4 linked regions of the Homo sapiens genome follow. The protein of the gene in region 1 purifies or fractionates together with the protein of each later gene. This does not show direct contact. Each region holds a gene or a part of one and is shown in the gene's direction. Other genes may lie near its edges.

Region 1 (3,500 bases):
GTGGCCATGCTAACAGCCATTGATGCTGACCTCGAGCCCGCCTTCCGCCTCATGGATTTTGCCATTGAGAGGGGAGACACAGAAGGGACTTTTGGCCTGGATTGGGAGCCAGACTCTGGGCATGTTAGACTCAGACTCTGCAAGGTGAGGGCCTGGGTAGCTGGGAAAGGGGCCCACACATGCACGCATGCATGCACATGTGCCTTGCCCAGGCCCGCACAGTGACCTGGGCCTCCTGGTTCCAGAACCTCAGTTATGAGGCAGCTCCAAGTCATGAGGTGGTGGTGGTGGTGCAGAGTGTGGCGAAGCTGGTGGGGCCAGGCCCAGGCCCTGGAGCCACCGCCACGGTGACTGTGCTAGTGGAGAGAGTGATGCCACCCCCCAAGTTGGACCAGGAGAGCTACGAGGCCAGTGTCCCCATCAGTGCCCCAGCCGGCTCTTTCCTGCTGACCATCCAGCCCTCCGACCCCATCAGCCGAACCCTCAGGTGAGCTAAAATCCCAGCCCCTTACCTGGACTGGATTGCCCCTGCTCCCTGGGGATGACCCCAGGGCCTCAGAGGGGACTCACATTATCTGTGGCCTGCAAAATTTCTCAAACTATGGCAAATGCCAAGGTTGTGACTCCTGGCAGGGATCGGGGCTGGATGGACTGGGTGGGGCATGGAGAGGGGTGTTTTGGACCCCATGAGAGCTCAGATTATGCCTCAGCACCTGGAGGGAGGACCAGGCCCTCCTCCAATGCCCCCCAACAGATTGCAGACAGACAAGGTTGTTCATAGACTCTGATTCCCTTGCAGGGTGACCTGGAGTGAGCAAAGTTGAAATGGGCCTCCCAGGCTCTAAGAGTTTCTCCCTTACCCACATGATCTGTTCTTCATCCCACACCCACCACCACCACCACAACAAATCCTGAAGCTGGAGAGAGAGACTGGGCCCCCCAGGCTTTGCTGTGGCCCCTGAGTCACAGAGAGGGTGTGGAATTTAAGCAAGTCACACAGCCCTGGGGGATTCTGAGCAAAACCCTATATGTAGTCCCAGTACCTCCTCACCTCCTTCTTTGGGCGGCAGGTTCTCCCTAGTCAATGACTCAGAGGGCTGGCTCTGCATTGAGAAATTCTCCGGGGAGGTGCACACCGCCCAGTCCCTGCAGGGCGCCCAGCCTGGGGACACCTACACGGTGCTTGTGGAGGCCCAGGATACAGGTATGGCCAGGCAGTGATGGGAGCCCCTGGGAGGGGGTACAAACCTCAGACAGACAGACAGCAGGACTGAGCTTCCTCCCAGAGGCCCTCACTGGCAACCCCCAGCCCCAAGCAGGAGAGGCAGATATGAAGCTGGGTTCAATGTTCCTCTCTGAGAATGGATCTACTCCTCCGGTGGGCAAGTCTGGCATCTGCCTCCCCTCTCTGATCATTCTCCTAGATTGACACACAAAATCTCCCAGCCCTGTCCTTTAGCCACTGGAGGGCCTCTCAGGGTGTCAGCTTCAGGGACTGGTATAGGGCCGGGGAGGTGGCAGGAGGACCAGGGGCTGCCCCTGGGGAAGGAGTGCTGGAGTGAATGGGCCACTGGAGCCAGGTGTGGAGGACACTGAACACTGCTCAGGACAGAGAGCTGGCCCTGGGGTGGGGAGCCCCGGGAGGCAGGTTTCAACTCTGAGCTGGGCTGTGATACAGGGCAGACCCAGCAGCAGTGAGCTCCGCCAAAGTCAGGGATGTCCACAGTGGCATGGGGATGATGACAGGTGGAGAGAAGCATGGAGGGAGCATGGCAGGGGAGTCTATAAGGCGAGGCTCATGGGCTGCGGGAGCAGCCCAGGGACCTCAGAGCTCACCCTCCCCCTGGCAACACCTGGCCAGCTCAGCACTGCCTCCTCTGCAGATGAGCCGAGACTGAGCGCTTCTGCACCCCTGGTGATCCACTTCCTAAAGGCCCCTCCTGCCCCAGCCCTGACTCTTGCCCCTGTGCCCTCCCAATACCTCTGCACACCCCGCCAAGACCATGGCTTGATCGTGAGTGGACCCAGCAAGGACCCCGATCTGGCCAGTGGGCACGGTCCCTACAGCTTCACCCTTGGTCCCAACCCCACGGTGCAACGGGATTGGCGCCTCCAGACTCTCAATGGTGTGTGGTGGGGAAAGGGAGGGAGGCTGTGGCCAAGGCAGGGAGGGGGTGTCACTTGGAAGTGAGATACCCTTCTACCATGGGGGTGGGGCTAGGCCTAGGGGGAGCAGCCCCCAGAGGGCCTGTCCAGGCTGGTGACCCTGGTCTTTGCCTGCTGTCCCAAAAGGTTCCCATGCCTACCTCACCTTGGCCCTGCATTGGGTGGAGCCACGTGAACACATAATCCCCGTGGTGGTCAGCCACAATGCCCAGATGTGGCAGCTCCTGGTTCGAGGTGAGATTGGGCTTGGGTGCAGCCTGCAGTTCCTGAGGGAACCGCTGGGATGCAAGGGGAGGGAGCTGGTACACATGCATACAGGCTGCTCATGTGGACAGCACATGCCTGTGCACACTTGCACACCTATGGCTGGGCACACATACCTGGGCACACAGGAACAGGCACAGAGGCACATACATTTTTTTTTGAGACAGAGTCTCACTCTGTCACCCAGGCTGGAGTGTAGTGGCATGATCTCGGCTCACTACAACTTCCGCCTCCCAGATTCAAGCAATTCTTCTGCCTTAGCCTCCCAAGAAGCTGGGATTACAGGTGTGCACCATCATGCCCTGCTAATTTTTGTATTTTTAGTAGAGATGGGGTTTCACCATGCCAGCCATGAACTCCTGGCTTAAGTGATCCACCCATTTCGGCCTCCCAAAGGGCTGGGATTACAGGTGTGAGCCACCACGCCTGGCTAGCGCATATATCTTCACACACATGTGAATACACACATGTGCAGAAACACACACATATCAGCCAGGTGGCTGGGCTGGGGGCTCTGAGCAGCTGGGGAGCCCTCCCCTCCCTCCCCTTACCTTCCTCCCCTCTCCCCTCAGTGATCGTGTGTCGCTGCAACGTGGAGGGGCAGTGCATGCGCAAGGTGGGCCGCATGAAGGGCATGCCCACGAAGCTGTCGGCAGTGGGCATCCTTGTAGGCACCCTGGTAGCAATAGGTAATGGAGGTTGGACATTACCTGCGTGGGCGAGGGCGATGGGTGGTTGGGACCACAGCCTCCAAATAAACACCTTTGTCCCCATGGTGCCCCTAGCTCTGAAAAAGGAAGCCCCCAACTCTCCTAGTCATTATGCGCCTGCCCTTTGATCATAGTCATTGTCATCATCATTGATAGTAGCATCTACGGTCACATGATTGCACATTGACTGTGTGGCAGGGACTATTGCCAGGAATCCTCCCAGCAACCCTGTGAGGTAGATCCTGGTATCTCCCCATTTTGCAGATGAGGTCATTGAGGCTCAGAGAGGTTAAGTGACTGGTCCAAGGTTACACAGTCAGGTTGTGACAGAACCCAGGTCTTTCTAGCCTAATTGCATCA
Region 2 (3,500 bases), on another chromosome or scaffold:
ACCATATCACAACCAGGATACTGACATTGATACCTAAGACAAAGAAGATAAACTGATAGATTTTTAAGTAACTTTTGTCTTCTTTGTCAGTGATTGTCAATTAGAGAGAGTCAGGCTATGAGAGGTAGGCTACCTGAGTGTCAGAATGAGGTAATAAGAATAATGCTTCTCCTCATCTCTACTAAAAATACAAAATTAGCTGGGTGTGGTAGCGCATGCCTGTAATCGCAGCTACTCAGGAGGCTGAGGCAGGACAATCGCTTGAACCTGGGAGGCGGAGGTTGCGGTGAGCTGAGATCGCACCACTGCACTCCAGCCTAGGCAACAAAAGCGAAAGTCCGTCTCAAAAATAAATAAATAATACTTGTCTATTGGTTTTCATGTGTACGCATCTGCCTTCTTCAACACATGACATTGTAGGCATTTTCTCTCCCTAGCAGTTTTTCATTTTACCCTTTGGCATCTTTCTACTTAATCCTTTGAAATCACCCAAACTGTGGAAGCACAAGAGAGTGAAAATTCCTGATGTAGTTAATACCCATGGAATAAACTTATTATATTAGTCTTGCCACAGAAAACTCCATAAATAGTCTACTTCCATAGGTTAGAGTGATACTAGAACTTCTGATGACAGTTCGCTTTTTAATAAATTAGGACTCAGCACTTCCTTTGCGATTCAGGTTCTTTGGCAGAACAAAGACTCATGGGGTTTTGTTCTGATAGTTAATGGAAGAGAGAAATTTTCCCAAGGAGGTAGAGATCCCCAGGCAAAGTAACGATGGGAATGTTGACGATTTGAACTTGCCTGCATTGTGCCAGCATTGCTGGGTGAAAGAAGTTTCCTCTTAGGCCTTACAGTGGAAGTGGTCGGAAAGAAATACAATTACAGGGCTGAATAAAAGTGATACCCTGGCCGGGTGCGGTGGCTCACGCCTGTAATCCCAGCACTTTGGGAGGCCGAGGTGGGTGGATCATGAGGTCAGGAGATCGAGACCATCCTGGCTAACACGGTGAAACCCCGTCTCTACTAAAAATACAAAAAAATTAGCCGTACGTAAATGCACCTGTCGTCCCACCTACTCGGGAGGCTGAGGCAGGAGAATCGCTTGAACCCAGGAGGCAGAGGCTGCAGTAAGCCAAGATCCTGCCACTGCACTCCAGCCTGGGCGACAGAGTGAGACTTCGTCTCAAAAAAAACAGTGACACCCTAAGATTTTCTTTTGCTGACACATGTCACTTTAAAAAAATAAAATTTAGAATATGATAGTCACATGTAGGTTGACTCATATAATTGCTCCTTATTTCATATTTAACTGTTTTCTGAAAAAAAAAAAGTTTTTCTCTTCCTCTTTTATGAAAGGAGAATTTCATAGTCCTAAGAAAAGTGACATTTAAATATTTGATCAGGAGATTTTTTGGTGGCTTGGAGAGGTTGTGTTGTGTTTATATTGAGATGCATATTTGTTTGTACTAATTACCCTAGGATTGCTTTATGAGGGTGCTCAAAATAAATGCTTACAAAGGTAGGGCAGGTAACAGAAATGAGTAACAAGGACCTGGTGAAGAACTAGGGTGTTTGGCTCCTTTCAAGGGACAGCCACTGTGTCACTAGCCCTGTGAGAATGCCTGATCATGTGGTTGTCACGTCTTTCAGTTGTCATTGTTGTTGTTGTTGTTGTTGAGACGGAATCTCACTCTTGCCCAGGCTGGAGTTCAGTGGCATGATCTCAGCTCACTGCAACCTCTGCCTCCTGGGTTCAAGCGATTCTCCTGCCTCAGCTTCCCGAGTAGCTGAGATTACAGGCTCGCGCTACCATGCCCAGCTAATTTTTGTATTTTTAGTAGACACAGGGTTTCACCATGTTGGTCAGGCTGGTCTCGAACTCCTGACTTCAGGTGATCCGCTGCCTTGGCCTCCCAAAATGCTGGAATTACAGGCATGAGCCACCACTCCCAGTTTGTCCTTCAGTTTTAAAGAGAAACTATAAATTGGATATTTTATTAAAGCCCTTTAAAGCCGACAAATAATTCAGATTTCAAATCAAAGCCCCGTGCACTGTGTGCTCCTGCACACTATGCTTCTCTCTTGTATCATTTTCATTTAATTCTTGGCAATTTTGTGTTTACCAACTGCCAGGGAGCCCAAGGAATTTAGCCGTCACCTCAAACTTAACCAAACTTACAACCTTTGGGCCCAAACCTGCTCCCTCTCTGGACTCTTTTTGCTGTCTATATTGGCCTCTGTGTTGCAATCATTTCTGGACTGAACAAGGCCTTGGTGTTTTTTCTCCTTTGTTCTTCTCACCATAGTTCCCCCAAACCTGAGTCTGTTGATTTTGTCTCAAGAATTTGCCTGTTTTCTGTTCCCTTCCTTCCTGTTCCAGCTACCCCCATTGCTAGCCTGCCTACTGCTCCTCTGATCCAGATTCTGTCCCCATTCTAGTTCCTGTAGCGTTGTCCAGCCAGGTTGATCATCTTTTTCTAATACCTGTTTCGTTATCTTCCTACTCAAAAAATTCTATGTGTCTTTGTTGCCTACCATGTAAATTTCACTAATTCTGCCTAGATCTCAGGGCTTCATAGTAGTTTTATCTTGGCTGTCTAAAGTTCCCCCCGGCACTTCTTAACCCATTGGTCCATTAAAGCCAACTCTATTTCCCCAATTCAGCCCTCTGTCAGGGGCTGCCAGGAATCTCGTGGGAGTTTCTGGATAATGGGTAGATCCTTTCCCTAGGCCTTGGCTGTTGAGATGATGTAGATTCTGGAGTTTTCAAATCTTTTTCTTTTTTCTTTTTATTTTTTAATAAACCTCTATTACCATTTGGCCCCAACACCTCAAGGCAAGAAGGAAGTGGAATAAAGGAAGACTCCTGAATCCACCTCTAACTGGGGAAGAGGCTGGGAGGGAAGAGGGCTGCTTTGAGGTCCTCAGATTCACAGTATACCCAAGGTGAGGCTTCTCCATCAGAGACTTTGGGATGGAGAGGCCTTCTTTTACTACCTTTGAGAGTTCCTTCTTCAACAGCTTTCTGCTTCTCTCCCTCCAGCTGAGACCAGAAATTTTTGCTTCATTTATGTGAAGCTGTGCTAACCACAGACATTTTGCAATCTGAATGCAGTGTATGCTCATTCTCCTTGCAGCCCACCCAGTTGTGCATGTCCTTGGATAGTTGTGTGATTGACTAAGTCACTTCAATCAACTAGAGCAACTTGTAGGTTAATAGGTGAACTTCCCTATTCAGAAAAGTCTTCAGATAATTTCTTGTTTTGATGAAATGCTGGTAATTCGCTGCAACATTCTTTCTTGCCTCTCTCCTTTGCATTTTGTTTAGACCCCTGATGTATATATAACACATAGCACCTAGAATTATAGTTATTTGAATGTGTGACTATTTGCCATTTTACTCTGAGTTCTATGAGACAGCAAGTGCTGCTTTTGTGTTTCCAGCTTTTAATACCATGTCTGGTTATGAAAAGCACTCAACATAGTAGATCCTTGA
Region 3 (3,963 bases), on another chromosome or scaffold:
GACCATCCCACACCCTCTGACTCCCAGGCTGAGATGCAGTTTTACCTGGTGGTGGCCTTGGCCTTGATTTCTGTGCTCTTTCTCCTCGCGGTGATTCTAGCTATTGCTCTACGCCTGCGACAGTCTTTCAGCCCTACTGCAGGAGACTGCTTTGAGTCAGTTCTCTGCTCCAAGTCCGGACCTGTGGGTCCCCCCAACTACAGTGAGGGAACGTTGCCCTATGCCTATAATTTTTGTGTGCCTGGGGATCAAATGAATCCAGAATTTAATTTTTTCACATCTGTTGATCATTGTCCAGCCACACAAGATAACCTCAACAAAGATAGCATGCTACTGGCTAGCATTTTAACTCCCAGCGTTGAAGCAGATAAGAAGATTCTTAAACAGGTAAGTATTTAAAAATGTATTTAATCCTTTTTATATTACAATATGCCAATATATTCCAATATAGTGGTATTATTTTAAGATTCTAGATAACTTCTTCATAGAGTTCGCAAAATATAGGTCAAATTTATGGTTATCATTATTAAAACAAAAGTTTAAATTAAATGCCTCAGTCTTCCTACTATTCAAAGACATTTTAAAGCAAACTACATGGGTAATCTCCGGTGACATTTTTATGAAGTAAAATACCTTTCGGTTAAAAATATAAAATACAGGTATATTTTTACGGCATGGTATTTTAATTGAAACCCTGATGCTACTCAATTTTTCTCAAGTATTTCATCTTCATTTACTCAATAAAGGAACCTTGTAAGAATTATAGTTAGGCATCCTACCTGATGATTTTATCGGGACCGTATTATTTCCACTTCCAGAAATGTCGTTCCTTTCAGTCGGTTAAAATCAATTGGAACCAACTACAACCTACAAGTTTTCAGCTCCAGTAATATTTTGAAAACTTTTTAAAAATTAAGCAAGCCCTTTTAATAATTACTCCTTTCGCAGGTGTTCTTGGTAAAGTTTTAACGTCACATAATGTAAGTATTGTGTATCATCGTTTTTAAGCTCTACAAATACGTGTGATTCACAAAGGTGAGCGTAATCATTTCTTCTGGAATTTCTTAGTCGTTGCAATAATAAGAATGGGCTCTAGGCGCCGCTGCTCACCAATCAGGGAATGGGAAGCTGCGCGCCATTGAGTCCCTCCCTCCCCCGCCTCTACCACACAAAGCGGAATGAGATGGATACTCACAGATCCTGACACTGGAGACTTAGAAGTATTTTCCTTCGCTTTCTGATATATTTTGGATGTAGTCGGCCTAGGACTTCATAGATACATAAGCCGATTCACAACCAACCAGCTCGAGAAACCGCGGAATATCGGCTTAGAGCCTGCCATGGCGAATCGGCTACAGCGCGGGGACCGCAGTCGGCTGCTGCTGCTGCTGTGCATTTTCCTGGGGACGCTGCGGGGGTTCCGGGCCAGGCAGATCCGATATTCGGTGCCAGAAGAGACCGAAAAGGGCTCCTTCGTGGGCAATATCTCCAAGGACCTGGGGCTGGAGCCCCGGGAGCTGGCGAAGCGCGGAGTCCGCATCGTCTCCAGAGGGAAGACACAGCTTTTCGCTGTGAATCCGCGAAGCGGCAGCTTGATCACGGCAGGCAGGATAGACCGGGAGGAGCTCTGTGAGACGGTGTCCTCCTGTTTTTTAAATATGGAACTTCTCGTGGAAGACACCTTGAAGATTTACGGAGTGGAGGTGGAAATAATAGATATTAATGATAACGCCCCCAGCTTCCAGGAGGACGAAGTGGAGATAAAAGTCAGTGAGCACGCAATTCCTGGGGCGCGATTTGCTCTTCCTAATGCTAGGGATCCAGATGTGGGCGTGAACTCCCTCCAGAGCTACCAGCTCAGCCCTAATAATTACTTTTCCTTGCAACTGCGGGGCAGAACGGATGGGGCCAAGAATCCAGAGCTAGTACTGGAGGGAAGCCTGGACCGAGAGAAAGAGGCTGCTCACCTGCTCCTCCTCACAGCTTTAGATGGAGGCGATCCCATCCGAAAGGGCGCAGTTCCCATTCGTGTGGTGGTCCTCGATGTAAATGATCACATCCCAATGTTTACACAGTCCGTATATCGCGTGAGTGTTCCAGAAAACATCAGCTCCGGAACTCGGGTGCTGATGGTTAATGCAACGGATCCAGACGAGGGAATCAACGGGGAAGTAATGTATTCATTTCGGAACATGGAAAGCAAGGCTTCTGAAATATTCCAATTGGATTCACAAACTGGAGAAGTTCAAGTACGGGGGTCTCTGGATTTTGAAAAATATAGATTCTATGAGATGGAAATTCAAGGCCAAGATGGTGGAGGTCTCTTTACCACCACGACGATGTTGATCACTGTTGTGGATGTGAATGATAACGCTCCAGAAATAACTATCACCTCTTCTATTAATTCAATTCTGGAAAACTCTCCTCCAGGTACAGTGATTGCTCTTCTAAATGTGCAAGATCAAGATTCTGGAGAAAATGGTCAAGTCTCCTGTTTTATTCCTAACCACCTGCCTTTTAAATTAGAAAAGACTTATGGAAATTATTACAAATTGATAACAAGCAGAGTGCTGGACAGGGAGTTGGTCCAGAGCTACAATATAACGTTGACAGCCACAGACCAGGGAAGCCCGCCTTTGTCTGCAGAAACTCATGTCTGGCTGAATGTGGCAGATGACAACGATAACCCTCCCGTTTTTCCTCACTCCTCTTACTCTGCCTACATTCCCGAAAACAACCCCAGGGGTGCCTCCATCTTCTCAGTGACCGCCCTCGACCCGGACAGCAAACAGAATGCCCTGGTCACTTACTCTCTGACGGATGACACTGTCCAGGGGGTGCCTCTGTCCTCCTATGTCTCTATTAACTCCAACACTGGTGTTCTCTATGCCCTACAATCCTTCGACTATGAGCAGTTTCGAGACTTAGAACTGAGAGTGATAGCACGTGACAGCGGGGACCCGCCCCTCAGCAGCAACGTGTCGCTGAGCCTGTTCGTGCTGGACCAGAACGACAATGCGCCCGAGATCCTGTACCCTGCCCTCCCCACAGACGGCTCCACTGGCGTGGAGCTGGCGCCCCGCTCTGCGGAACCTGGCTACCTGGTGACCAAGGTGGTTGCGGTGGACAAAGATTCAGGCCAGAACGCCTGGCTGTCCTATCGCCTGCTTAAGGCCAGCGAGCCGGGACTCTTCGCGGTGGGGGAGCACACGGGCGAGGTGCGTACAGCGCGGGCACTGCTGGACAGAGACGCGCTCAAGCAGAGCCTCGTGGTGGCCGTCCAGGACCACGGCCAGCCCCCTCTCTCGGCCACCGTCACGCTCACCGTGGCTGTGGCCGACAGCATCCCCGAAGTCCTGGCGGACCTCGGCAGCCTCGAGTCTCTGGCTAACTCTGAAACCTCAGACCTCTCGCTGTACTTGGTGGTGGCGGTGGCCGCAGTCTCCTGCATCTTCCTGGTCTTTGTCATCGTGCTGCTGGCACTCAGGCTGTGGCGCTGGCATAAGTCACGCCTGCTGCAGGCTTCTGAAGGCGGGTTGGCAGGTATGCCCACGTCACATTTTGTAGGCGTGGACGGGGTACAGGCTTTCCTGCAAACCTATTCCCACGAGGTCTCTCTCATTGCGGACTCGCAGAAGAGTCACCTGATTTTCCCCCAGCCCAACTATGGGGACACGCTCATCAGCCAGGAGAGCTGTGAGAAAAGCGAGCCACTCTTGATAGCTGAAGACTCAGCTATCATTTTAGGCAAATGTGACCCGACAAGTAATCAGGTGAGATTTATTTCTCTGCCTCCTAATTGTTGGTGTCTTGGCACAAGTCTTTTAAGGAGATGTTTTTTGAGCCTGTTATGAAAACTGTTTGGGGGGGGGGTGGGGCGGCATATATTTAGTTCATATATATTTAGAGCAATACATGTGAGTTTTACTTTGCCTTTCATGAGATTACGATAATCTTTCAGAA
Region 4 (2,155 bases), on another chromosome or scaffold:
ACAAGGTGAATAAGACTACAGGATACAAAGGAATCATCTTCCATTAACAAAAGTTGAGAAAGAGAATCTCATTGGAATTGAAGGGAAGTGGATGAGTTGTGTTTTCAATATTGTTCTTCTTTGTCACTAGGCATTAAAACCTTCCCAAGTTCTGGATCCCAGTTCACGTCCTTGTTTTTCTTGTTTTGGAGATATATTCACACACATACCGCTGATGCCATTTTCACTTTTGTTCCTTGTTATATGTTCAGCCATTCCTTATCATCTTCAGCATCTATGTTCCACATTCAAGTCCCATGAAGCCCCTCTCTTATTTCCATCTTCATGTGTCTCTTTTCTCCTTTTATAATTGTAGCATTGAACTCTTCAGCTGTTTTTTATGCATTACCATTATCATTTGCTGATCATCTCATGTGTGTTCTCCACCCATTCCTCCCTTCTTTGTGGCCAAATTCCAAGCTCCTTGAAAACACTGCAAGACCACAATATTAAATTTTTAGTGTTTATCATTTTGACAAAGTGTAAGCCTTAAAAAATTTTTTTGGTTAAGGTATCTGGCCAGGTGCAGTGGCTCACGCCTTTAATCCCAGCACTTCGGGAGGCCGGGGCAAGGGGATCACCTGAGGTCAGAAGTTCAAAACCACCCTGGTCAACATGGTGAAACCCCGTCTCTACTAAAAGTAAAAAAATTATCCAGGTGTGGTGGCATGCACTTGTAGTCCTAGCTACCCAGGAGGCTGAGGCACAGGAATGGCTTGAACCCAGGAAGCAGAGGTTGCAATGAGCCAAGATCGGTGCCACTGCACTCCAGCCTGGGTGACAGAGCAAGATACTGTCTCAAAAAAAAGAAAAAAAAAAAAAGTTTGTACATCAAGTTGAATGATGAAGAATAAAAAGGAAAAACAATAGTTTCTACAGCTGTTAGGGTGATTTACTAACACTGCTTTAACCCTAGGTCATTCTTAATTTTGTTTTCTTTTCCCCCTCTCAAAAACACTGGAAAATTTTCTTAAATCTGGGAAGTATCTTGGTATGTGTCTTAAAAATGATTTCTCAATGACTTTTTCCTCCTTTTTTGTTTTCTGTTAAAGGTGACTTTGCTGTTCTACTAAAGGCTGGCATGACCGTTAAGCAGGCTGTCCTTTATAATGCATTGTCAGCCATGCTGGCGTATCTTGGAATGGCAACAGGAATTTTCATTGGTCATTATGCTGAAAATGTTTCTATGTGGATATTTGCACTTACTGCTGGCTTATTCATGTATGTTGCTCTGGTTGATATGGTAAGTTTTTAAGAAGTCTTATTACATTATTGACCAACAATAAAATAGAGAAAATATTCGGTAAAGCCTCATTTTTTTTCTCTCTTTTTGGGGGAGCAGGAAGTGGAATCTTGCTATGTCGTCCAGGCTGGTCTCAAATTCCTGAGCCCAAATGATCCTTCCATCTCAGCCTCCTGAGTAGCTAGGACTATAGGCTCAATAAAATATCTTTTTTTTTGGCTGGGCACGGTGGCTCATGCCTGTTAGTCCAACATTTTGGGAGACCAAACCAGGCAGATCACGTGAGGTCAGGAGTTCGAGACCAGGCTGGCCAACATGGTGAAACCCTGTCTCAACTAAAAACTACAAAAAAATTAACCAGGGTTGGTGGCATGCGCCTGTAGTCCCAGCTACTTGGGAGGCTGAGGCAGGAGAATCACTTGAACCCAGGAGATGGAGGTTGCAGTGAGCTGAGATTGTACTACTGCACTCCAGCCTGGACAACAGAGCAAGACTCTGTCTCAAAAAAAAAATCATTTTTTTAAAAAAGATTTTAAATGCAGTCATTATGAGAAGTGATTCTATATTCAGAAATTTGTGGCATATAAGAATATAGGTTCTTTAGAGTTTTTTTTTTTTTTTTGGATTGTTGATCACACCTTTATCTTGCTTAATATGTGTCCAGATTCACAAAAATATCTACATCCTTCTGATGTATCATTTTAGGGTATGATCTCAGTAATCAGGCAGTGAATTTTCTATAGATTTGTAGGAAGTCTAGGACAAGATGCATATTGTTGGCATGCTGTATACTTCAGAATGCTTAGTTTATTAATCAACAAAGGAGTCATATCTTTTTGTCACTAATGTCCTCAAAACAATCCCAACCAATCT

What was found. The genes of interacting proteins can lie anywhere in the genome.
Region 2: the proteins of CDH16 (region 1) and DCBLD1 purify together in Homo sapiens (affinity purification with mass spectrometry; one large-scale study listed by BioGRID and IntAct). This does not show direct contact.
Region 3: the proteins of CDH16 (region 1) and PCDHGA11 purify together in Homo sapiens (affinity purification with mass spectrometry; one large-scale study listed by BioGRID and IntAct). This does not show direct contact.
Region 4: the proteins of CDH16 (region 1) and SLC39A6 purify together in Homo sapiens (affinity purification with mass spectrometry; one large-scale study listed by BioGRID and IntAct). This does not show direct contact.

Annotation. Positions count from the first base shown.
Region 1 is NC_000016.10:66,908,886-66,912,385, reverse strand, and holds part of CDH16 (cadherin-16 isoform 1 precursor), read left to right. Parts: coding exon 1-144; intron 145-245; coding exon 246-487; intron 488-1,070; coding exon 1,071-1,204; intron 1,205-1,883; coding exon 1,884-2,126; intron 2,127-2,292; coding exon 2,293-2,400; intron 2,401-3,002; coding exon 3,003-3,119; intron 3,120-3,500. UniProt on the Homo sapiens protein: Cadherins are calcium-dependent cell adhesion proteins. They preferentially interact with themselves in a homophilic manner in connecting cells; cadherins may thus contribute to the sorting of heterogeneous cell types.
Region 2 is NC_000006.12:117,499,674-117,503,173, forward strand, and holds part of DCBLD1 (discoidin, CUB and LCCL domain-containing protein 1 isoform 1 precursor), read left to right. Parts: intron 1-3,500.
Region 3 is NC_000005.10:141,419,888-141,423,850, forward strand, and holds the start of PCDHGA11 (protocadherin gamma-A11 isoform 1 precursor), read left to right. Parts: upstream 1-1,163; 5' UTR 1,164-1,340; coding exon 1,341-3,773; coding exon of another isoform or gene 3,774-3,854; exon of another isoform or gene 3,855-3,963. Other genes in the region: PCDHGB7 (protocadherin gamma-B7 isoform 1 precursor), read left to right, coding at 1-387. UniProt on the Homo sapiens protein: Potential calcium-dependent cell-adhesion protein. May be involved in the establishment and maintenance of specific neuronal connections in the brain.
Region 4 is NC_000018.10:36,110,186-36,112,340, reverse strand, and holds part of SLC39A6 (zinc transporter ZIP6 isoform 1 precursor), read left to right. Parts: intron 1-1,091; coding exon 1,092-1,282; coding exon of another isoform or gene 1,283-1,294; exon of another isoform or gene 1,295-1,347; intron 1,348-2,155. UniProt on the Homo sapiens protein: Zinc-influx transporter which plays a role in zinc homeostasis and in the induction of epithelial-to-mesenchymal transition (EMT).